7 linked regions of the Homo sapiens genome follow. The protein of the gene in region 7 purifies or fractionates together with the protein of the main gene of each other region. This does not show direct contact. Each region holds a gene or a part of one and is shown on either strand. Other genes may lie near its edges.

The links.
Region 1: the proteins of KIF2A (region 7) and TIAL1 purify together in Homo sapiens (affinity purification with mass spectrometry; one large-scale study listed by BioGRID and IntAct). This does not show direct contact.
Region 2: the proteins of KIF2A (region 7) and WDR35 purify together in Homo sapiens (affinity purification with mass spectrometry; one large-scale study listed by BioGRID and IntAct). This does not show direct contact.
Region 3: the proteins of KIF2A (region 7) and MTF2 purify together in Homo sapiens (affinity purification with mass spectrometry; one large-scale study listed by BioGRID and IntAct). This does not show direct contact.
Region 4: the proteins of KIF2A (region 7) and GNS purify together in Homo sapiens (affinity purification with mass spectrometry; one large-scale study listed by BioGRID and IntAct). This does not show direct contact.
Region 5: the proteins of KIF2A (region 7) and CEBPG fractionate together in Homo sapiens (co-fractionation; one large-scale study listed by BioGRID). This does not show direct contact.
Region 6: the proteins of KIF2A (region 7) and RABGAP1 fractionate together in Homo sapiens (co-fractionation; one large-scale study listed by BioGRID). This does not show direct contact.

The regions. Positions count from the first base shown.
Region 1 is NC_000010.11:119,590,465-119,593,964, reverse strand, and holds part of TIAL1 (nucleolysin TIAR), read left to right. Parts: intron 1-445; exon of another isoform or gene 446-513; intron 514-1,847; exon of another isoform or gene 1,848-1,989; intron 1,990-3,500. UniProt on the Homo sapiens protein: RNA-binding protein involved in alternative pre-RNA splicing and in cytoplasmic stress granules formation. Shows a preference for uridine-rich RNAs.
Region 2 is NC_000002.12:19,976,606-19,980,105, forward strand, and holds part of WDR35 (WD repeat-containing protein 35), read right to left. Parts: intron 2,275-3,500; coding exon 2,146-2,274; intron 1-2,145. UniProt on the Homo sapiens protein: As a component of the IFT complex A (IFT-A), a complex required for retrograde ciliary transport and entry into cilia of G protein-coupled receptors (GPCRs), it is involved in ciliogenesis and ciliary protein trafficking.
Region 3 is NC_000001.11:93,120,783-93,124,282, reverse strand, and holds part of MTF2 (metal-response element-binding transcription factor 2), read right to left. Parts: intron 1-3,500. UniProt on the Homo sapiens protein: Polycomb group (PcG) protein that specifically binds histone H3 trimethylated at 'Lys-36' (H3K36me3) and recruits the PRC2 complex, thus enhancing PRC2 H3K27me3 methylation activity.
Region 4 is NC_000012.12:64,717,907-64,721,406, forward strand, and holds part of GNS (N-acetylglucosamine-6-sulfatase precursor), read right to left. Parts: intron 2,277-3,500; coding exon 2,116-2,276; intron 1-2,115. UniProt on the Homo sapiens protein: Hydrolyzes 6-sulfate groups in N-acetyl-d-glucosaminide units of heparin sulfate and keratan sulfate.
Region 5 is NC_000019.10:33,376,709-33,379,947, reverse strand, and holds part of CEBPG (CCAAT/enhancer-binding protein gamma), read right to left. Parts: intron 805-3,239; 5' UTR 709-804; coding exon 256-708; 3' UTR 1-255. UniProt on the Homo sapiens protein: Transcription factor that binds to the promoter and the enhancer regions of target genes. Binds to the enhancer element PRE-I (positive regulatory element-I) of the IL-4 gene. Binds to the promoter and the enhancer of the immunoglobulin heavy chain.
Region 6 is NC_000009.12:123,098,020-123,101,519, forward strand, and holds part of RABGAP1 (rab GTPase-activating protein 1), read left to right. Parts: intron 1-695; coding exon 696-779; intron 780-1,458; coding exon 1,459-1,530; intron 1,531-3,500. UniProt on the Homo sapiens protein: May act as a GTPase-activating protein of RAB6A. May play a role in microtubule nucleation by centrosome. May participate in a RAB6A-mediated pathway involved in the metaphase-anaphase transition.
Region 7 is NC_000005.10:62,358,206-62,361,705, reverse strand, and holds part of KIF2A (kinesin-like protein KIF2A), read right to left. Parts: coding exon 3,407-3,500; intron 465-3,406; coding exon 374-464; intron 241-373; coding exon 177-240; intron 1-176. UniProt on the Homo sapiens protein: Plus end-directed microtubule-dependent motor required for normal brain development. May regulate microtubule dynamics during axonal growth. Required for normal progression through mitosis. Required for normal congress of chromosomes at the metaphase plate.

The sequences.
Region 1 (3,500 bases), on a different chromosome or scaffold from region 7:
ATTAAATTAGTATTAAGTTCTTTTTTAAAAGTCCTGGTTGAACTAAGATTGTAGGCAGACATTACTGTCACATGTGGTGCAGTCTGTTGACTTTTATATATTTTTTAAAACCTTCAAATGTAAAATCTTGAGATAAAAGCAAATGTTTAACAATTGGGATTTTTATTAGAGTTTAATACAAATAATGCATAGTTTTTCTAAGTGTACGTTTTACATATTCTCAAAGGGTTCTATTAGATATAAGTAACATGATGAAAACTGAACATGATTTTAGACGTTGATATCTAGTAGGGTTTTTTGTTTATGGAGATCTTATATTTTACATTGTGAGCTATGGATTAGGTTTTTCAAGTGGCCAGTATGTTTTAAAAGAATGTGTTCTTAACAAAGCTTATCTTAAATTGTTTCCTTAAGATGCCTGTGTGTTACTAGTGAGGTTTTTTTCCTGCAGACACACACAAGCTAAGACATATGGTTCTATCTTCAGAAAACAATATGGTGTTTAGAGCCTAGGTAGGTCTTTAAATATTCATTACCTACAGTATTACTAATTTATTTGATGGTATTTAAAGTGGCAAGAATTGCTTTGATGTTGAGCCTAAATTTCTATTTGTCATATAGTTGCTTTAAAGGTCTGTTTTCTGATGTTCTTCATTCTCATTTGACATTTATTTTGGGGTATTATGCATTGAGTAACTTGTGATCTAAAAAAACAAACAAGATCATGCTGTGTAATACTGGTGTTGGAACTGGACTGTCTGACACCTGCCTTGTGGGACACACATTTCAGGCTTGGGTTGTGTGTATCTTTGTAGTGCAGTGATTTGATCCATGGTATATCTGAATCTACAATATGACACTAAATTGTAATAGTGTTTTATTGTAGCTTATTTTATTTTCTTCATCTATCGGATGCACCAAAATTGCTAGGAATTCGTGTAATACCATGTTACACAATCCCTTCCTTTAAGGCTATTCTTTCTTCCTGGAAATAAGCTAATGATTTAGAGTATAATCTGAACATCTAAGAACAAAGCAGAAGAAAATTCTATAAACTATTACAAAATTGACTGGCTATACCATGGATTTGGCTATACTGTGGCTATAATCAAGCCCCTCATTCAAATTCAACTTAATCATATTCTTTGTTTCTTTAAAGTAAGAGAGAGAGAGTGAGTGTGTGTGTGTGTGTGTGTGTGTGAGAATATCTCATATATATAGTTGGTCAATTTAGTTGTACCTCCTGCAGCTATCTTCCATCATGCCTCCTTCCTAAAATGAAATACTGTACCGACAAATTGAACAATTAATTAGAGATCTATTGAAGGATATTATTGCAAAATCTCTTCTTGTATAGGACTTGTCAAGAACAAAAGCAAAACTATTATGGAAATTTAGCTATAGTTTTTTGTGTGAAAGTGCTGATAATTTCAGCCTTGGTAGGGCTACTCTTTTCAGAGTGAGAGCACATTCAGTGTTGAAAAAGTGTCATTAGTCTTCTGAAAGGCATGATATTCTTAACTTAAAATTCTGCCCAGTCGGACACAGGAAGTAGTTTGGCAATGTGAATTTCTGCCTACTGTGAAACTGCTAAGTTTTTAGCCCCAAATTGGATTTTAACCCTGATATTAGAGATAAAGGTGTCATTTTCAGTTTTTAATGCTTCAGTTCCTACAGTTCCTGTTCTTAGAAGACAAAATAGACTCTAAGGTATGCCTCTTCTGAATTTTTTCGTTGAGTTAAAAATCATTTTGGAATTTCCTAAGTGTTTACTCTTTGAATTGACCTCTCAATACAAAAATTAGAGCCATTTATCTTTTTTCTGTTATTTTGTGTATGTTCTTTAGGTAGCAATTATATATTTAAAGACTTGGATCTTTAGCTTGACTATTTCATAACCAGAGCAGAAAGAAAGTGAAGTGTAGAAGCTATAATTTGGAACGAATAAAGATGTCATTTCAATGAACTACCAAGAGATGATCTTACTAGGTCAGGCATTGAACTTTGTCTTAAATATTTTTGTTAGTATTTACTTTGGGACAGATTATTTTATGATACTGTAAAAGTACTTAAAATAGAATAGTACAGTATTTTAAAAGCTATACAATACGTCTCTCAAGTGTTATGATGCACGAAGGCAAATGTAAATGAAGAGGCAATCTGAAATTTGGGTACAAGAACTCAGTAAAAGAAAAGGCAGTCTGAAATTTGGGTAAAGTTTAGGTGAAATTATATAGTGAATCATGGCCTTTTAATCCTGGTAAATTAAGATATTGTATGTGTTGTTATGGAAGGCCTTTCATGTTAGTTTTTGAAATTTAGTTTGCTGCTTAACATTTAACTTTTAGTGGAGATAATTTGAAAAATAGGAAACCTTAATACTGGATTTTTAAATAAATATTTCATGACATTCTAAACTTAGATATTAACGTTTTCATCTTTGCTTTCAGTGCTAGAAATGTAAATTAATATATCTAAATATGCCTCTAGAAATTCTTCAAGATCTGTAACTGGCGGGAAATAGGTTGACTTAGAATAAAGATTTTTTTTTTTTTTTCAGATGGAGTTTCGCTCTTGTTGCCCAGGCTGGAGTGCCATGGCGCGATCTCAGCCCACTGCAACCTCCACCTCCCGGGTTCAAGTGATTCTCCTGCCTCAGCCTCCCCCAAGTAGCTGGGATTACAGGTGCCCGCCACCATGCCTGGCTAATTTTTTGTGTTTTTAGTAGAGACGGGGTTTCACCATGTTGGCCAGGCTGGTCTTGAACTCCTGACCTCAAGTGATCCACCTGCCTCGGCTTCCCAGAGTGTTAGGATTACAGGTGTGAGCCACCACACCTGGTGGAATAAAGATCTTATTAAGCAGTGACGGCTTTTTTTGTGACTATTAGATATAGAAGGTAACTAATTCCAATACAGTTTTTCCTGAAGAAATTGATGTTTAAACAGTAATGGAAATTTAAAACTATTTAAATCATTTAAAATGTGTTATATTAAAATGATAATTCTATTTTAATTTTGTTATTAGCTAGCTTCAATATGTGAAAACCAGTTTTATCCATCCTTCTTTTCTCTTAGAAGTGAGCTAACTAGCCCTTTAGGCAAGGAGCATAATGTTTAGAAGCTCAAGATCACTTGTTCGTTTCTTTCTTTCTTTCTTTCTTTCTTTCTTTCTTTCTTTCTTTCTTTCTTTCTTTCTTTCTCTCTTTCTCTCTGTCTCTCTCTCTTTCTCTCTTTCTTTTTTATTTATTTTTTTGAGATGGAGTCTCACTCTGTCGCCCAGGTTGGAGTGCAATGGTGCAATCTCGGCTCACTGCAACCTCTGCCTCCCAGGTTCAAGCGATTCTCCTGCCTCGGCCTCCCGAGTAGCTGGGATTATAGGTGCGCGCCACCATGCCCGGCTAATTTTTGTATTTTTTGTGGAGACAGGGTTTCACCATGTTGGTCAGGCTGGTCTCAAACTCCTGACCTCATGATCCGCCTGCCATAGCCTCCCAAAGT
Region 2 (3,500 bases), on a different chromosome or scaffold from region 7:
AATAAATTTCTGTTGTTTAAAAAAAAGAAAGAAACTGCCTTCATGGACGTCACTGATGGCCTGTTGCTAAAGCCAATTGATACTTTTTTTTTTTTTTTTTTACCACTCCCTCCTTCTTGAACTCTCTTGGCTGCCATTAGCCCATATACTCCTTTATCTCTAAGACTCTTATATTTCTCGACATCCTTCTTCTGCCTATCCCTTAAATGTTGCTGATTTTTTTTTTTTTCCTGAGACAGGGTCTCACTCTTTTGCCCAGGCTAGAGTGTAGTGGTAAGATGATGGCTCACTGCAGCCTCAACCTCTCAGGCTCAAGCAATCCTCCCACTTTGGCCTCCCAGGTGATTGGGACTACAGGAGTATGCCACCACGCCCAGATAATTTGTTTTGTTTTTTTTTTATTTTTAGCACAGACAAGGTCTTGCTATGTTGTCCAGGCTGGTCTCAAACTCCTGAGCTCAAGCAATCCTCCCGCCTTGGCTTCCCAAAGTGCTGGGACTGCAGGCATAAGCCACTGTCCCCAGCCTAAATGTTGCTGATTCTTAACTCTACAAATGCCTCTTAGTTTTGTTCAACTATTTCAATGGTTTAAATTACCATGCATATGCTGGTGGTTCCCAAAATTTTGTGTTCAGCACAGACATTTTTGAGCTGCAGATATGTATGTCTAACTATGGTCTGGATAGATTTACTTGAATGGCCTATGGCATGACAAAATCAACATATCCAACAGAGGAATTTTCCCTTAAAATCAATCTTTCTCCACACTATTTTAATGAAAGGCATTACCATCCATCCAGCTGCCCAAGCTAAAACTCTGGATACTGCCCTGGGGACTTCCATCCTCTCATCCCCAATCCTATCTATTCTGCCTCCTGAGTATGTATAAAATCTACTTACTTCCATTCCCTTGTCATTACCTGGATGGCTACCATCCACCATAATCTCTCACCTGAATTGCCAGAGCAGTTTCCTGATACAGCTGCCCATTATCTTTCCTTCCTTTCTCTATTCTTCATATGTAGCACAGAGATGTTTCTAAAGAACAATCTTATCACATTGCTCCCATTCTTAAAACTTTTCATTGGCCTCCCAAGTGCTGTTGGACTTAAGTCCAAACACCTTAATATAACTTATGATCTGCATGATCTGGCCTCTGTTTCTCTCTCTAGATTCACTGCATACTACTCTTCACTGTTAGTATTATACCCTACTGATAATCAACTTTTTTCAATGGCCCAAACATAGCTAAGTGCAACTCCTCTGGACCTCCTCAAATACTACTTCTTAGGGCAGAGACATTCTACACACCAACCTACCTTGTGGCTAATGCCTCAGCATCAGCATCACTTCCTCCAGGAAGCCTTTCCTGATCCCTCCAAGTCTGCATTAGGTGGCACTTCTACATGCTCCTGTATTTTCCCCATCTTAGCGCTTATCACAGGATACTGTAATTTCTCAGTTACTCATCCATCTCTCCTGATCTAGGTCTGGTCATTGCTGTACCCTTAGTTCCTAAAATGATAGCTGTTGCTTTATAGGCTCTCAGAAACATTTGTTGACTACATGAAGTTACACACACACACACAGACACACACACACACACACACACACAGAGCGAGCGAGAGAGAGAAATAAAAATGATTTTAAAATAAATTATTTATCTACAGAGTTTCAAATTAAAACAAAGGTGCAGACTCTCAGAAGACCCAGTTTTATCTATTACTAGAATTTGAAAAATACAGGTTTTTAAGGCTATAAACTACAACCAACAATGACATATTCAGTTCCAATAAAAACGACCACAGACTTTTTGAAACTAAAGTCTATATATTTGTACAGACTAACCAATATAAAAAGAAATTACATAATGAGGCAGACATGTTTAAAATAATGCTGAAAAGTTAATTCAATTTTTTCAATGCCACTGTAGGAAATAAAAAAATTTCCTTGAATATACATAAAAACAGATGGTTAAAATCAAAGAACGGTTCTTGAATGTCGTCAAATTGTATATCAAATAGTTTCCCTTTTATGTCTATTTTTCAATCAGAATGCTAACATATGGTAACTAACTTAAATCTCTAAAGAAGAAAACTGTCAGCCAGATATTGATCTTAGTTCTATGTCCAATCAATACATTACCATCCACTGAACCAACTATCACAGCCCCATCTTCATATACAATGCAGATCTTCTGTCCGTCAGCATTCCAGCTCATACTGCGAACAACTGATTTATTTCGATTGTTGATCATCTCCTCAATCCAAGAGCCTGTTTTCACAAATTTAAAAAATTACAAGTCAAAACTTTCACATCTATTAAATAGTAGTTAAGAATTGAAAGCATTCCATAAAGTACGCCATGGGACAAATAACTGCAAAGTTTTCTACAACCTGAGACATTAAACTATAAAACTTCCAAATCCAACAAAAACAAAATGAAAAATTAACTTGGGCTTAACTGATAACTGCTTCAAAGATTATCACAGAAAACATAATAAATGCCCATCCTTTGTTTCTTCTTTCTTTCTTTCCCTCTCTCTTTCTTTCTGTCAATTAAAAATTAAACTTCATTTGCTTTTTCAGAGCTAAAACTACTGATTTTTCTGAAAGCCTAACTTTTCCCACTTGAACAATATGGTTCAGATCATAACCAATTAAAAAAACTCCAAGTAACAATAACTTTATACATATGCACATAAACTCTCCAATGAATAATTACAAGCATATTAAATGCAGCATATTAGTTACCATCACAAAGAGAATGAAGGCAAAAAAATACACAGCATATTAGGTAAAACCCTAAGCCTGCTTGAAAAAATTCTAATCAGTTTATACTACATTAGTGACACGACATCTCTAATGCCGAATGACAAAAATATTCTAGTTGTATGCAGGGTAGGAATGAGATGTAACTTGTCTTTTAGCATAACCAAACTAGAAGCAAAAAAATAGGCTATTTTGTTTTTGCTTTTCTCAAAGGCTTTTTGACATACCAACATGGGCAACTCTGGCCTGCAGCCAAGCAAATAATCATGTAATTTGGAATAACTGCCCAGAGCAGGATAACAGAATCGAGACTGAGACCCAGAGAAGACCTGAAGACCTACCTTGGAAACAGACAAAGTTTACTCCAGTCCACTGAACTTTCACATTCTATCCCCTACACACACACACACACACACACACACACACACACTTTTTAAAAAATTAAAGTATTATAGCATATCTTTAATGAAGACTTTTTAAATGGTATGCCCTGCCATTTAAAACAGCACACATGAACTTTTCAAAACAGCACACATGAACTAAGGCACCCTTCCCTTTTGAAGATGATAACTACAGGCCTCAGGAGAACATGTATTATGAGCTGCTTTTCTGGTAAAAGTGGATTATCTAAGTTAATCCTTCTTTTACTCACCCTCTCTCATAGACAAACTGTGAACCAGTAGTCAGAGTTGAGATAAAATCTGTATCCATAAAAGAAAAGGAAACTAA
Region 3 (3,500 bases), on a different chromosome or scaffold from region 7:
TGTTAAGTATTTTTACTATCTCAAAGAAAATAATCCAAAACATAGTAGTTCCTCAAACAGCTACACTCAATCTATATGATAATCATTAGGTACCAAGCCAAAAGAAGTACAAAAACTACATAAGGAAACAATGTAATACTACCATTATCTTCTAAAATGATTCAAAAGTTTTATCTTCTCTTCATAACAATCCTATACCGTATTCAACTAAGAAAAAAATATGATACATGAATGTTACATTTTGGCTTTTCAGTATGACAGGATATTATCTCCAAAAGTGTAATATTTTTGAAACTTCTTTTTATTACTAAAAGAAGTCACAGCTTTGGATGATAATGATGTATTGATGTAGCTTCATCAATTATAACTATCTACCATTATGGTGGAGGGATGTTGATAATGGAGGAGGCAATGCATGTGTGGCAGAAGGGGACAACCTAAATCTGCTCTTAAAAAAAAAAAAAAAGTCTTTAAAATAAAAACAGTCACAGTGCTTCCTTTATTAAAAAAAGGGGGGGGGGACACAATACACGAAACAGAATACAACTGATTCAATGTAAGATTACAGCAAGTAATTACAAATGTAAATATGTATTTACTAGGTTTCTAAAATAAAAAATACCATTAAAGTTTAGCCAGCCTCATCATATGTAAAATTATAATTCAAAGTTCAGGGATAATAAATGTGGATAACTGCCTAGTTGTGCAATATATATTCCTACGCAAAATGCCATAAAAAATCTCAATCAACTTATATCATTACAAAATTTTTTCTCTGATCTGGTGGCAAGAGGAAGGAAACTCCACATTTTAGATAAACTAAAATCACAACCTTTGTTCTATTTTGTTTCATTTTTGAAGATAAATTTCTAGAGCAGGCGCTTTAGTCTATATTACGTATAACAAGAATTGCTGAGGCAGGAAGATAACTTGACCTCAGGAGTTCAAGGCTTCAGTGAGCTATGTATGACTGTACCATTGCACTCCAGCCTGAGCAAGGGTCTCTTAAAAAAAAAAAAAGAGAGAGAGAGACTCTCCTGTCCTGTCTCTTAAAAAAAAAAAAAAAAAAAAAGAAAGAGCTGATGTTCAAAATGACTAAAGTACTCCAAGGTACTCAATTATAAAATATAAACATTATATTTAGCATACACTACTTCCCATGTTTTGAAAATAATTAATGGCATTTTATAAGATTTGGAACAAGAATATAAACAAAAGTAAATTTTTGTTAACCTAAATTTGGATTAGTGACAAAATTCAATTTGTAATTCATTTTTAGTTTATCAAAAATTTTCTATTCAAATAATTTGGAATGACCCATTATTTATGTTACCTTTTTATTGATCACTACAAACATTTGAAAGTAATCTAAATGAAAAACACTGAATAAACATGATAAACTAGCATAAATTTTATCATCTCTTTATTATTAAAAACTCACCCTAAAATCCAATTATAATTACAGTACAAAAATATAAAATACAGAAAATTAGAAACCTTAACTTCAATCTGTCAGTTACCAAAGTCTGTGAATGAGATGTCTCATCTAAGAAGTCTGAATATTTTCTTATTTTAATCCACAGAAAGAACAGTAAGAAATTATTAGTCTCTTGTTTTAGTAATAAATTTGATGGTCAAAAAGTGGAAATAATTTGCAAAACTTTTTCTTTTTTTCTAAGACATTACCTCATAGGCTACAGAAATAAAAACATGTATTATTACTGAAGCAAATTTTTTCTAGTATGTTTCAGAAGTTCAGTTGGAGCTGGGACACCCAAAATTCATAAACTGAACTCTTTTCTTGAAAAATATACTAAATGTGATTTTCATTTTCTTATATTTCCAGCCTCTCAAATAAAATCTAAACACTAAAATTTAAATTTTAATTAAAAAGGACAGCATTTGAAATAAACACAACTTGAGTTTTTATATTATATATACCCAATGTCTACATCAAGTTACTACTGCAGAATTTCATCATGTAATGCAGACAATGTACTAACAGGTATACATATGTATCTGCATATGAAGTGCTAAAAGAATAATGGCTAGAAAGAATTTTTAAACAAATGTATTATAGTATTAAATATTAAGATAATTATAAAAACCACTATAGCCACTTCTAATGCCTTACCCCTTACTTTCTGATTACTAATCAGTTTATTAAAATTTATCAAATGTGGCCATGCCCAGTGGCTCATGCCTGTAATCTCAGCACTTTGGGAGGCCAAGGTGGGCGGATCACTTAAGGTCAGGAGTTCAAGACCAGCCTGGCCAACATGGCAAAACTCCATCTCTACTAAAAATACAAAAATTAGCTGGGTATGGTGGCAGGTGCCTGTAATCCCAGCTACTTAGGAGGCTAAGGCAGGAGAATGGCTTGAGCCTGGGAGGCGGAGGTTGCGGTGAGCTGAGATCACGCCATTGCACTCCAGCCTGGGTGACAGAGCAAGACTCCGTCTCCAAAAAAAAAAAAAAAAAAAAAAAAAATCAAATGTACACATCACTCACTTTCTCTCAGACTTCATCTAAAAAAAAAGTATTTAACAGAAAACTTAACAAAAATTTGTATGATAATCCAATATCTAACATTCAAAACTCAAATGATGAATTCAAAAATTCATCAATTGAATTTCAATAATATCCTAGATTTTAAAACTACAAACTAAATCATGCATTATGTTCTCCCTGATATCCCATAAACCCCCAAAAAGCCCTTTGATATCCTATTTGATATGAAATAGGATGTCCTTCGTGTCTCAAAGCTACAAATCAAGAAATTCTTCCTAAACTTCAAATCAGTGTGCAAAATTTTTACCTAAAAAAAAGCATGACTAAGATATACATATCAAATTCCATATTATAAAACAAATTTTTTAGTTTTAACTAAAAGTAGTTAATATATGTACTTTAGTAATTCTAAATAAAAGCTAAAAATAAGGTCCCTAACTATTAAACTTATTCTAGTTACTTTTCTCTTTCTGCTATTCATTAGTTTCAAAATTTTCTTTAATGAACACACATTACTTTTAAATTCATTTAAAAAAAGACTGTAAACCAGCATAGGTAGTTACACTTCAAAAATGAGAAGCAAAATGAGATGTCAGAATGAGAGGGGATAATTTTCTATTCAGGCAGCTTCACTCTACAACTCATTTTTCTAACAATATTATTAGATCCCACCATTCCTACAAGTCAGAAATATATAAAGGAGTACCAACAAGAGAGGAAGGAAGAATGTTGGTTATATCTCTAAGTTTATAGAAAACTTAGAAGAAAAGGAGGTTGAACTACAAGTAAGATACCCAATACTAAAGATTTCTCCCTCCCTTCTATCTTTAACTACAATGACTTTCACTTCAGAAAATGAAAGAATCAAATAATATACCTCCTCCTTCTACAAATTTCCAGAGTCAACAGGCAACAAACACACAGGAGGATGAGAAGGCTGGTCCTGATATCCATACCAAACTTATTTGTCCCCAGAACTAAAAATAAAA
Region 4 (3,500 bases), on a different chromosome or scaffold from region 7:
GGATAAGGGGGGACTACTGCATTTTAGAACTGCAATTGACCAAGATTTTTTGTAAAGGGCCAGATAATAAATATTTTAGGGTATGGGAGCCATACAGTCTCTGTCCCAACCATTCTCCTTTGCTGCTGAAGCACACAAGCAGCCAAAACCAGGTAAACGAATGTGTGAGGCTGTGTTCCCGCAGGTGGGGCTAGATTGGGCTCACAGGATCTGGTCTGATGACCCCATTTTGGAGGACTCAACAGGCCCAAATGTTTGATAGGAAAGGAATAATCAGGGCTAAGGAATTTAAAACAGAAAATCAGGTTAAGTTTAAGTAGTTCAGGCTAACAGGCCCAAATGTTTGATAGGAAAGGAATAATCAGGGCTAAGGAATTTAAAACAGAAAATCAGGTTAAGTTTAAGTAGTTCATGCTAACATCAGCAAAGCCAGCATCTAGCACTTTAGTTATAAGCTTCTAAAATGTGAGGAAGACAATTTGTTGCAGTTAAAAACCAAACAAAACTTGCTTAGGAAATAACGTATTCACTTCCTTATAGGGTGACCCTTGGGCAAATCACAACTGCAAGCTCAGTTTCCTCATTTGAAATTTACCTGTTTGGGCTCTAAGGGCTGTGTGGAAATTCTATGAATTCTAACACTTAGAGCCAGATGTTCAGAAGAAACAGACAGCTGGCTCCATCTACCTTGCATTGGCCAACCAGATGCCAGCCTGGCAGGTCCATGTCCTAGCAGTGGCATGGTCAGGGACTGTTTGGCCACACATCATAATCCAAGAGGTCCAGTCCCTTGACCCTCCATTTAAGATTTAATCAGATGCTGGCTTTAAGTTCCCAGAGTCAGCCAGGGAGTACATGGTTAAAAAACATTAACTGCTATCGACATCTAACTTAATTTGGTTTAAAAGAACATTCTGAGCTAAGTAACTGTTGGAAATTGCAAAGTCAGCACATGTAAACTGGAAGTCTTGTGCTTTTATTTTAGGGACTGGACTTCCTATTTCAGGTAACTGGTACCAAGCTAGGATCTATTTCACTAACTTGGAGGAAAGACCAAAGGAAAGACCAATGGTCAAAATTCTTGACCATTCTTATTGTACTAATGGGATTATCCATATAAAAACAGTTATTTCATTTAAGTGATATAAAATAATAAATATTATCTTTTTATATTGTTACCTGGCTTTAGTTTACTGGTGTCCATGCCACTTTGGCACTATATACATTATTTAAAAGCAAACAATGAACAGTCTATCATCGAGTTTTTCTACTCATTCACATTCATTTGTCTCTAATTTGGACTAAAGATAAAATTTAATACAAAGACGGCTAAAAAATTAAGTGATAACTTTCCATCAACTTAGGACATCATTCTTCCCTCTCTTACAGTCTGAAGGTAGGAACTAAAATATTCCTTTCCCAGTGAAAGTTTGATTTTTAAACTTCATGATCTTCAAGCAAAAGATAAATGACAAGGTTCCTGCCACCAGCAGCTCAAATGCATGGTGTACTGACACCCAGTGTTACTGCTGAAAAGTTACTAAGAAGGACCGTGTGGGGAACAAATCTGACATAGCAGGTGACAGCTAAACATCCTTTATACCTCCATATCGTGCAATGGGCTTATATATTTCAACATCTGAGTTTACACCTTCTATTTTCATTGTGTGTTTAATATATTAAATTCACCAGCAAACATTCAAGTTTCTGTAGTAGGGGTTTCTGAGAAATGAAATGAAGGCATATACTCTTGCAAGCTCTAGGGAACAGGTGAACAGGGCAGCAGTGGGTCGCAGCTTACTTAAAGAAGCCCCAAGTGTCACCAATGCAAACAAGTGGTACCATGACAATAATCACAGCACGAAAATAACAAGAGCCCCATGTTTGGTGGGGAGCAGGGCTGTACCTCTGGCTAAAGTAACAACTGGCAGTGGAGAACAAAAGTTTCAAAAGCTTGATTTTCCCAGCACAACGGGCTGATGCAATTAGAACACAGTATTCCCTCTAAAGCAGAAGAATCATCATCTCACAGCAAAAAGGGCTCCCTTTGCCTTCAAGAACAGCATGTCTACTAGAAAAAACTTGGCCAAGTAAATGAAGAGAAAGGAAACTTACCCGGGGTCAAAAACCCCTGGAGTGCGACAGGTTGGCCCAGAACAGGACTGTAACATCATTAACCGATAGTTCATCTTTCCTAAAAGCTCTGGGTCTATGGTTTTAGCAATGTTAGTGATCTGGTCTGGGTCTGCAGTCAGATTATAGACTTCTACAAACACCTAGAGGACATGAAAGAATGGAGGAAAGAAAAGAGCAAAGGTTAGCCGTGAAGAAATACTCTTAACGTGACTTATTTCTAAAGGGGAAGGGAGGAGGTAGATTAAAAAAAAAAAAAATCAAGGCCCTGGAGACTCTCAATCTGTTTTCAAGATCCTCAAAGAGCTCACTGCTTCCTTGAGATGAGGGAGCATCTGTTCTGGGGGTTCAGTTGCTTCGGGTCTCTAGCCACATGCTAAAAAGGGGCCCCTGCACACCCTGTGCCTTCAGGCAGAGGCAAGAGAGGGTATGGGGAAGAAATGCATTATCTTCTGTAATTAGAACAGAAAGCAGGAGCCTCCAATGGCAAGGTCTCAGAAACAAGACTTGGCAATAAAGTTACTAAAGTGAGAGCGAATATTTAAAGGTGATTTTTGCCCTAGAATTGTGAAGTTCAAATGAGAATGATATGAAAGTACTCTTGCCTGTGTTATACAAATGTTAAGTTTTCCTATTTTAAAAAGTAATTGTGGATATATTGGGGAAGGACACAATACTAATTATTATTTCTAAAATAAGACAGGTCTAACGCAGTACTTTTCCCTCTATAATCTGTATGCTGTTCTCCAAATTGGAGTCAAATGTGAGGCTAGAAAGATGGTAGGTAATTTTGCCTATAATGGCTTCAGGTAGCTGCCCTCACTCACACAATCACTTATAAAGTAGTTATCAAACTGATAAACATTATGGGGGAGCAGGGAACAGGAACTGAGTTTGAGGAAAGCTCTCTTGCTTGTTGTCCAAAGTGCTTATCAGCTGCAAATGGAGTGGAGAATGAGTCCATTTCTGAGAAACACAGATGGGCATCTGTTCCAGATGGTCAGATGAGGGTTGCCAGATGGGGCAGGTGAGCATATGCTGATAAACAGTAAGAAACCACAAGGGACTAGAGTCCATGGGATCCTTCAGATAATCCATACCAACCTGTGTTGGCCAAAAACCACCTTCTTCCATGGATGGACTCCTGGGCCTCTGACCCCCACTCTAATCTATTACAGCAGCATTGGATTATGCTGTGGTGGGAACAGGAGTTTCCGAATACACCAGGTGCTGGTAAGCTTTCTAGAAAATGCTCCAACCAATCTACCAGGGAAGCTAACAGACAAAGCATTTATCATTCTGAAAACGTGAATTGTGCATTTAAAGTGTATATTTGGGTGGTGGTGGGAGTGGAGAGAACTCAATTC
Region 5 (3,239 bases), on a different chromosome or scaffold from region 7:
CTTTTTTTACCATATACCTTAACATTTGGGGGATTTTGATTCCCACAAAAACCTCTATCATTTAAAACCAGATATTCGAATTACAAGGCTAACATTTTTAGCTAATCAACTCTTCAGTGCTGATCCCAGAAAATAGCCTCCAATGGGTCTTTGAGTCATGGAAATGGACAACTTTCAGCCATTGACATGAGTGGTGTCGGTGGTCACACCTTTAACATTCAAGCCACAAGCTCTAAAGTCTGGAAAGGGTGAGGTCTACTGTCCTGCATTGTCGCCATCTGCTGTCGTATTTTCAGTGCTAATGGACTGTACGTTGTCTGCAAGGTTGTGTGCATGCTCAAGAAACAAATCTTTGAGTACACTTAATTCCTTGGTCAGCAATTTGATTTTTGCTTCCAACCGTTCATTCTCTTCTTTGAGCTGATTGACTCTCTGCAGTGTGTCTTGTGCTTTCTGCTTGCTTTTCAACCGGCTCTTTTTCACAGCCATGTTGTTCCTCTCTCGGCGTTGCCGATACTCGTCACTGTTTCGATCCATGGGCGAACTCTTTTTGCTCTGCTTGCTGGGAGCCACAGCTTTGCCTCCTCCCCCAGGGCCAGCAGGCACCAGCTGAGGAACCTGCTGTAAGCCGCTGGCATGTGCCTGGGTATGGATAACACTAATTCCGTTCACCCCTGGAGTGCTGTTTTGCTGCGATATCTTGCTCATTTGGGCACTCTCCCTTGCCAACACAGAACAGGTAGAAATGAGAGCAGGGTGATCAATGGTTTCCACGCTAAGCTGCCAAAAAATCTTCACATGTACCTAGTTAAAAAATAAATTGCATTAAAATATTTGAAATGACAGGATCAAATGAGATCAAACTTGTACGTACCTAACATCAGGCCAACATTAATTGATTCTGCTGAGAAAAGTCTACAGCAACTGCCAACTGTTCCAATGTTTCTGAAGTCTAAATCATTTCACTTAGAAAGGTAAGTAAGCACAGAAGCACCATCAGGCGAAACTCAGCCCACCTGGATCCCTGAGGGCACTGCCCCTCTGCGATTGTTATCAAAAATGGGAGGAAAACAAAAGACTTCCACTAATTAGGTGGCGCATGTGAACTAACAGCACTTGACAATCTCCCAGGGAGGAGCTGCAGCTGACTGTAGTAGGAGAGACACCTGCAATGAAAGGGGGGAAAAGTTTCCATTGTTGGTTCAAGTCAAAACAGAAGGCTGGGGTTGCGCACCCTGTCTCCAGCGCTCTCATGCTATCACCCCTGCGGGTTCCATGTTCTAATATGCAGAGAGGGAGTCATCGAGGACTTGAGTTCTCTCCCAGAGCTCTCTTCATCGGATATTTTGAAAAGGTAGTTTTTTGCTTTATTTTTTTAATGACCTCAAATGATAATTCCACAGTTTAACCAAATTTACTGAGTCAGTTTCTTGAATTTAGGAGCTCTGACACTCAATTTGCTCCCCATCCCACCAAGCTTGTAAAAAGTGTGTTTTTTCTTCTTGACATAATTAGTAAAACTCAAAACACACTCAACCTGAAACCACAAGGAAAGAAACAGAAGCCCTCATGATGCATCCAAGGAAGTGCGGGTCCTGGGACCCAGGCTGGACAAAGGAGCTGAGCAGCTGCCGTGCCTGTGGCCACTTCGTGCTACCAAATGAGCTCGTGTGAGCTCGGAGGACGCACCAGCTCTGAAGCATCCCTGTGCTGCTGCCTGCAGAAATGAAGGCACGGTTTCGAAAAGCAGTCACATGTGGATTACTCTGAATCCAATTAAGTCCCTACAGCTGCCCCAAGAAGTGTAAAAGTGTGACTATCCTATCAACATGAGGCCACTTCAAGACAAACTAAGTTCAGTGAACGGTGTCCACCAAGGAATCAGGGCACTCTTAGAAATTTAGAAAGCAGTGTTAGGAACATAAAACTATCCTGTTCTCTTTTCACAAAACTGCTAAAATCACATCAGTGGAAAAAATCTGGAGTCAGATTTATGCAGTGATCCCACAATGAGGGAAAGCTCAGTTAGCAAACACCAGTAGCTACACCCAAACCTTCAGCCAGGCAATTCTGTACACTGTTTATTGGTCTCTTTTTAAAAAACATCTTTGCTTTGAAAAGTCCATGTGTCATTACTTTCCATTGTTTTCAAAGCCACACAGCCGACTCTGAGCTAGTAGGTCATCTGTTCTCACGCCAACACTAAGGCAAGACAAAAAGCATCCCTCCAAACCATGAGGGCGATCCACTCCAAGCCTATCTTCAGTAATGGACAGTTCACAATTTCCCTTGGTCATCATTAGGTTGCCTCATTTTTCTTCCAGTAGAAAAGTGGCTGTTTAGTATTAATCTGAGCCACATTTAGTGCCACCTAACATTATTATTATCCATTTGGTGTCAAGTGAGAGGTGCTTTACTCAATTTTTAAGAACTTGTTTAACACCTCCCCTGAGACTGTCTTAACAATCATAATCATGTTCACCTTATTTCTCTACTTTTTTTTTAATATACCAATTATATTTTTAGCCTTTAAAGCTCTCTACAGTCAACTTGTCCATGCTCAGAGATAGCAATGATCCAAAGCGGTAGAGACCAGTGACCAGGCCAGTTCTTGTCTTGGCTGTGGCTCCCCCTATTTTAGTTTGGGCAAATCTCTTTTCTTCCATGGCTGTCTGTTCCCCACATGCAAATGAGGGATGTGGAATAGTAAGACACTTTCCTACAGACAACACACCACGACCTTCAGTCACTAACAAACAGCTCTTACTCACTACAGGGTCCACGTTCAGCAACGTTCACGCCTGTTTCCGTATCCAAAGATACAGGAACAGGGAAGGGCTTTTTCACCTCTGCCTGACTCATCTTGCAAGGTACTAGGCTGAACGTGTGTGGTAGGTGAGGTTTTAAAGGTAAGCCCTTTGGCCTGAAAAGAGTATTCACTGAACCTACAAACTGGTGAAAATGTAAGAAAGAGAAACTTGGAGATAATCAAAATAACTCCAAGAATGTTTTGTTTAGTAAGTTCTTTAACCATATAAATAGCTCTTAAAGTGAAGATTAACCAAGTAAAAGGGGATCAAAGAGCTAAGTGATTTTACACTGAAAAGGCCACTCTCATTTACGCTTTGTTCCTCCACACACATTTACTGAACACCTACAACAGGCAAAAAGTGTTTATTTGAAAGCTGGACACTCAGTCCTAAATTCAAGTCTGGCTCCTCTGTGGACAAACACTATTC
Region 6 (3,500 bases), on a different chromosome or scaffold from region 7:
GAGGAGACAGTGGGTTGAAGCCCATCCTTTGTTGGGGCAGGAGAATTTCTGTGTATCAGCATCTGAGCATAACAAAGAAGAGGGGGTAGAATTCCTGCAGAAGGAAAGCACACATCATATAATGCCTGGCTGTTTCCCTACTTGTCCTCTGCTGTCTCCCTCATAGAGCAAGCTTGGGAAGTCTTGTTCTGAGCCAGTGCTCCATAGTCATTGGAGACACAGACCTGCAGGCATGGGAAGAGCTCTGGGTGCTGTGCGCCTGGGAGCAGTCCCCTCCCCTGTCACACCACGGTCGTCCAGGAGGCAGGACTGGCTGGGGTGAGAGACTGCAAAGCCCTTTCTACAGAAACCATGAGATGCTGAAAACCCGCAGTCCTCTTATGAGCTCTTTGGTTTGTGTCTGGTCTGTCAGTGAAGGTCCACAGGTTGGCTTGTACTGGCAGGGAAGACCTTCAGCAGAAGCCTCAATCTGAAATGGGGTCTGACGTTTTTGGAAGTTTTAACTGTTCTCTCCCTCTCCTGCATCAGGAACAGGGGATTAGTGCTGCCAAGATTGAAGGAAGAAAGTAGCTGAATTAGAGGACTTCCAGGGTTTGGTTCAGCAGTTTTTGGGAAGCCTAGCACTAAGCGGTTGGTGGCAGAACTTCCTTTATTTTTCTGTTAACATAGTCCCTTTTGTTTTTTTATGTGTGCAGTTAAAAGAAATGTGCCGTCGGGAACTCGACAAGGCAGAATCTGAGATTAAAAAAAACAGTTCTATCATTGGTGACTATAAGCAGGTAGGTTCCAGTACCCTGGGATTGGGCTGTGTAATCTGGGAGCCCCTAGTCTGGATAAAATGTATACCCGCCCCCCACCCCCAAACCCAAATGCAAGCACCCTGGTTTCAGATCCTGGCTCTGCCCCTGCACTGACAAGTGGCTTCACTTATTCTCAGTTGTAAAAGAAGGAAAATCATCCCTGCCTAGGAAGGTTGTTACGAGGATTTAAAAAGACCATGTTTGTAGAGTGCCTGGCAGTGCCCAGCACATAGTAGGTACTTAAAACCACAGTATGTTTTGGTATGTATTTCAGATTCAGAATTACGAACTTTTGTTTACGTGTAGTTTTAAACCGGTTATTTCCCTGACTGGTTGAGTTTTAAGAACATAACAGAATGGTCTTGTTCCCTCCTACACTAGGATCTCTTGCTGGCTCATGAGTCTGGCAGGTGTTCAGAAACCATTGGCCATTGAGTGTGGTGCTGCTTGGTTTCTGCAAGTCCTAGGCCAGTGAATGCAGAGGCGGCATAGCTAGAAGAACCCCTGCTTATCCATCGACTTCATATCCCCTCCTGAGCGGTAGCAGGCTATTTGCTACTATGTTAATTCCAATTTACATATTCCAGCTTCCACTATGGAATTTATGCAGATGATTACAATTGCTCAAGAGATTGTTGTTTTATATTTGTTTCTTTAGATTTGTTCTCAGTTGAGTGAAAGATTGGAGAAGCAGCAGACAGCCAATAAGGTGGAAATTGAGAAAATTCGGGTAAGACTTCTCTTTACCTAAAAGATTTTATACCACCTACTTCATTTTATGGCTGTATAAACAGGTTTTGGGAGGAGGCAGTTGATTTCAAAAGTGAGAGAATCTAAGCAATAAGGCACCTGTCACAGGTCCTGGCTCAGTAGTTGACAACTAACACTACGCCTGTTTTCTCTGGAAGGGTGTACAGATGAAATCAAACAAGCTCTAGCTTTAGATCTCAAAGTGCAAGTGCCCCATGATTTCCAAATGTCTGTAAGGCAGTCGATGTCCGCAGTGTGATGCTGAGGAGAAGGAGTCATGCAAGTGATAGGTCTTGCTTGAGGTGGTGGGAGTGCAGAGGTCAGAATCATGTGCTGTGGCTTGTCACTTTCCAGTGTTGTTCTGAGTTCATGCCTTCTGCTGTAACACATCCAATTACAATGAGGACCTTAGTTTATTTTTATTTTTTTTTATTTTTAGAGACAGGGTCTCACTATGTTGCCCAGGCTGGCCTTGAAATCCTGGGCTCAAGCGAAATCCCTCCCTCAGCCTGAGCTGCTGGACTCCAGGTGGGCACCATTGCGCCCAGTTTAGAACTTTAATTGTTTAATGTTTTGTTGGCAGCTTAGGAGTTTTTATAACATGGTGCTTTCTTTCTTTAAGTTCTACCTGTATTACAGAACTTGTCAGATTTTACTAAGATAAGCAATTTACTGAAAAGTGCCTCACTAACATATTTACAGCTCAGAGGACAGGAACTTGGGAAAGTTCTGTGCTCATGGCTATGTTTGCGCAAAGCAACATTACCTAGAGCAGGATGACACTGGCCTTCGTCATAATTAATGTTTAACCAGATGTGTGTGTGTGTGTGTGTGTGTGTGTGTGTGTGTGTGTGTGTGTGTGTGTGTGTTTGAGACAGAGTCTTGCTCTGTCATCCAGGCTAGAGTGCAGTGGCGCCATCTCGGCTCACTGCAACCTCCGCCTCCCAGGTTCAAGCTATTCTCCTTCCTCGCCTCCCAGCTAGCTGGGATTACAGGCTTGTGCCACCGTGCCAGCTAATTTTTCGATTTTTAGTAGAGGTAGGGTTTCACCATCTTGGCCAGGCTGGTCTCGAACTCCTGAGCTCGTGATCCACCCGCCTTGGCCTCCCAAAGTGCTGGGATTACAGCTGTGAGCCACTGCGCCTGGCCAACCAGATCTGGTTTTTAAACAGAACTTATTTTCTGATTCTAAAACTTTAATATTCTTGCAGAAAATTTGGAAAAGAAGAGTAAATAAGGGAAAAAAGCCCTTATGATCCATTTTCCACATATAACATCTTTATTAATACTGTGGTGTGTATTCTTTCAGTCTTTGTTCAGTGTTTAACGTCTAAAATTTCATTCATTCTGAGATAAGCATTTCTTTTCACATTTACATCTCTGAAAGTCGGATGTTTTATAATTGGCTTTTTGTGGTTTAATTGGCAGAATGTTTTCTTAGAGGAACATAAAATGACATTTCTTACAGTTAATGGCATCTTATTTTGATGAAATGTGGAATACATTTTATTTGTAATCATAGTTTATGTACATTTTTGTGTTCTATTTCAACCAGCATGCATCCATTTTCCAATGTTATAAAAGTTCCTCAAAAACCTTTTAGAGGCTGTGTACTTCCTTGTATAAATATAGCACAGTATATTTAATATTTAATTGTTTTTGAATAGTTTATCCCCTGCTTTTTTGCCTGTCTCCAGTTCTACAGTGAAAATTTTTGTACATAAATTTTTATCTAGTTACAGCTTCATTTTTCAGCCTGGGTTCCTAGAAGTGAGATTACTGAATCAAGACAATGATAATTTTATTATTTTTGGTGTATAATACCAAGTGGCTTTTCCAGTAGGTTATCTGCCAGTTTACAAAGAGCACAGGTTTTCAGAAACTGTAGTGCTCAACAGAGAAGCCGTCTCTTGGTGTCCCCCAAAGGAGATGCTCACACCATCCTAAAGG
Region 7 (3,500 bases):
ATTGTGAATATATAATCTTATAGTTCTTTTCAAGCAATCTAATAACCTATAATTGACATAATAGACAGTTAATATAGCATTATAGTTGCTGAACAATATTTTAAAGCCTTATTTCAAAGTTACCTGAATAATACCACAGAAGAATATTCCAAATTTTATGGAAAAAGGACAGTTACCTGCTAATGCATAAATTCCTTTAGAACAATCTTGGTTCTTTCCTGAAAAGTCACCACCCATAGTCTATATTTTAAAAAGAAAATAAAGAACAGACATTACTCAGGAATAACTCTTAAGAATTTAGTTCACAGAATTAAGCTATAAGGAAAAGAAACTGTAGCTTCGTACCAGAATGTAACTTTAATAAATTACTTACATGAGTTTTTCCACTTCCAGTCTGCCCATAAGCAAAGCATGTAGCCATTCCCCTTTCAAATATAGTTTCCACTAGTGGTCTAGCAGTAAACCTTAAAAATAAAATGCATCAGTCAGAATGTGTCACCAATATTTTGATGAATAATAGTAATGCTGAGTAATACAAAGTATTTTATTAATAAATAAAACTTAATAGCAAGATTCTAAACAAATCTTTGTTAAAAATTTTAAATAACAATATCGAAGAATTGATTTAAGAATTTTAAATATCATATGCTAAAATTACTTAAACTACTTAAAGCATAATTTCAAGCAATATTTCCATAATAAATAATGGTCACAATAAGGCATATACAATAAAAACAAACACAAAGTATTATAATTTCAACAGAAACAGAATAAACAAGAGTGGTAATCTCAATTTTAAAAAGTTAATAGAGGAAAAAAACTGCAAAAATATTATCTATAGACCATCTAAATAAATAGAAAAATGTTGATTACCTTGAATTTAGACAAGTAATTTATACTTAAGCAAAAAGAATATAAATTGTGCTTGTAGGAAAATGAATTCTATTAGTAAGTTGACACTCTCAATTTAGGAAAAGGATACCTAAATATTATGGTTTGAATTACATTTTTTTTTTTTTGAGACGAAGTCTCGTTCTCGTCCCCCAGGCTGGAGTGCAAATGGCGCGATCTCAGCTCACTGCAACCTCCGCCTCCCGGGTTCAAGTGATTCTCCTGCCTCAGCCTCCCGAGTAGCTGGGATTACAGGCACCTGCCACCACACCCAGCTAATTTCTGTATTTTTAGTAGAGACGTGGTTTCACCACGTTGGTCAGGCTGGTCTCAAACTCCTGACCACAGGCGATCTGCCCGCCTTGGCCTCCCAAAGTGCTGGGATTACAGGCATGAGCCACCGCACCCGGCCTTGAATTATATTTCAAATGTATTGGTATAACCCACTGCTAGAGTTAAAATAAAAAGGTGGGAAGGTATAAGAAGTACTTTTCCCCTGAGCAGTACACTAAAAAGTATGATGGAGGCCAGGCGTGGTGGCTCATGCCTGTAATCCCAACACTTTGGGAGGCTGAGGTGGGTGGATCACTTGAGGTCAGGAGTTCGAGACCGGCCTGACCAACATGGTGAAACCCCGTCTCTACTAAAAATACAAAATTAGCTGAACGTGGTGGCACACGCCTGTAATCCCAGCTACTCAGGAGGCTGAGGCAGGAGAATCGCTTGAACTGGGAGGCAGAGGTTGCAGTGAGCCGAGATCATGCCACTGCACTCCAGCCTGGGCGACAAGAGCAAAACTCAGCCTCAAAAAAACAAAAAAAAAAAAAGATGGAAAACAGATCTACAAGTAGAACATTTTATATAACTGCTGTCTTTGTTTTGTTTTGTAAAAGGCAAAACTGAAGAAAGTACAGAACAAAAGGAGCAGGAAAAAGTTCTGGTCAAACAGAACTAGGGATGAGCCTGCTAAGTAGATCAAACCCCTACCTCCCAACCCTACCCACAAAAAAACATGTAACTCCTCAATCCATAATAGTTAAGTATAAGAGATAGAGGAGAAGGATAAATATTGATAAAGTTAAGAAACATAAACATAGGGTAAAAACACAATGTTTACTAAATCATACACACAGAAACATGCCTGTATTTGTAATAATTTCTTAAAAACTATTATAAAAGTCAAACTTATATTTTATGAGGCAGGAGTAGAAAGAGGGAATGAAAAGGAAAAGTGGACTCTTCAGAAAGCTAAAAAAAAATTCTACAATTAACAATTATGATTCCCCTTTAAACATATTCTTCACAAATATCTCTATCTAGTATTCATATGTCCTTTAATTTGATCCTTTTTTTTTTTACAACTGACTACCCAGTACACTTGGTGAAGACAAAAAGAGTTGGTCTCAAAAGTATTTCCTTTGTAACACCTTCAATTCTTAGTCTCATTAACTCTAATTTTTTCCTTTCTAGGCATTTTTATGAAAAAGGGCAATCAGATATAGTATTCAAGCAATTACAAAGACAGTAATATTCCTAGATAAACCAAAATAACAATACTGCTAAAACTGGTGTTATAATTATTAGAAATGAATGTTTGCAAACTTACGTATGAAAATCTAAATCTGGCATAAAAATTTGAGATACCAATGTATAACACAGATAAATTTGAATTATTTTTAAGTTGAATACAGAAAACATACAAGAATCTCATGTACTAAAACTATCTCCAAGCTTAAAGATGACAAATTTAAATACAAGTACGGAACTTTTTCGCCTTAAGTGACAATACATACTAAATACAGATTTAGATAAATTAATAATTAACTGATAACAGGTATTTTGGCCAGGCATAACAGTGGCTCATGCCTGTAATCCCAGCACTTTGGGAAGCCAAGGCGGGCAGATCACTTGAGCTCAGGAGTCTGAGGTTAGCCTGGGCAACATGGCGAAACCTCAACTCTACAAAAAGTACAAAAATTAGCTGGGTGTGGTGGTGCATGCCTGTGGTCCCAGCTACTCAGGAGGCTGAGATGGGAGGATCACCTGAGCCTGGAAGGTCGAGGCTGCAGTGAGCTGTGATCGTGCCACTGCACTCCAGCCTGGGCAACAGAGCAAGACCATGCCTCAAACAAACATTTCAAGTTTCTTTATTAGTACAGAGATTAAAAGGTAAAAATTAAAAGTCTTCTTATCATATCCTATTCCTAGAGGTAATGTTAACATTTTCCCGAAATTTCTTATCCATATACATGGTTTGTGTGATATGTATATATATGTATATATATGTGTAATAAGCTAATTAGCAAATAGTAATGGAAACTATGATTTTGGGGAGCATTACAGAGAACAAGTGTTAATATTCATTACAGCATTTATTACATTCTCTTTGTTTAAACTCAGAATAAAACAGCATATTGCACCTCTTAAGAAATATCCCACAATCAATGTAAATTTCAAGGTGCTGATGACCACATGGCATAAGAACAAAATTCTGATTTAAAATGAATTTACCTACCTGTAAACCATTTCATTAGGAGCTGAGTCATCAAAGGCATAATCAAAACGAAATGTTTGGTTTTCTAGGTACCTTGTTAAATCTACTTTTTGTT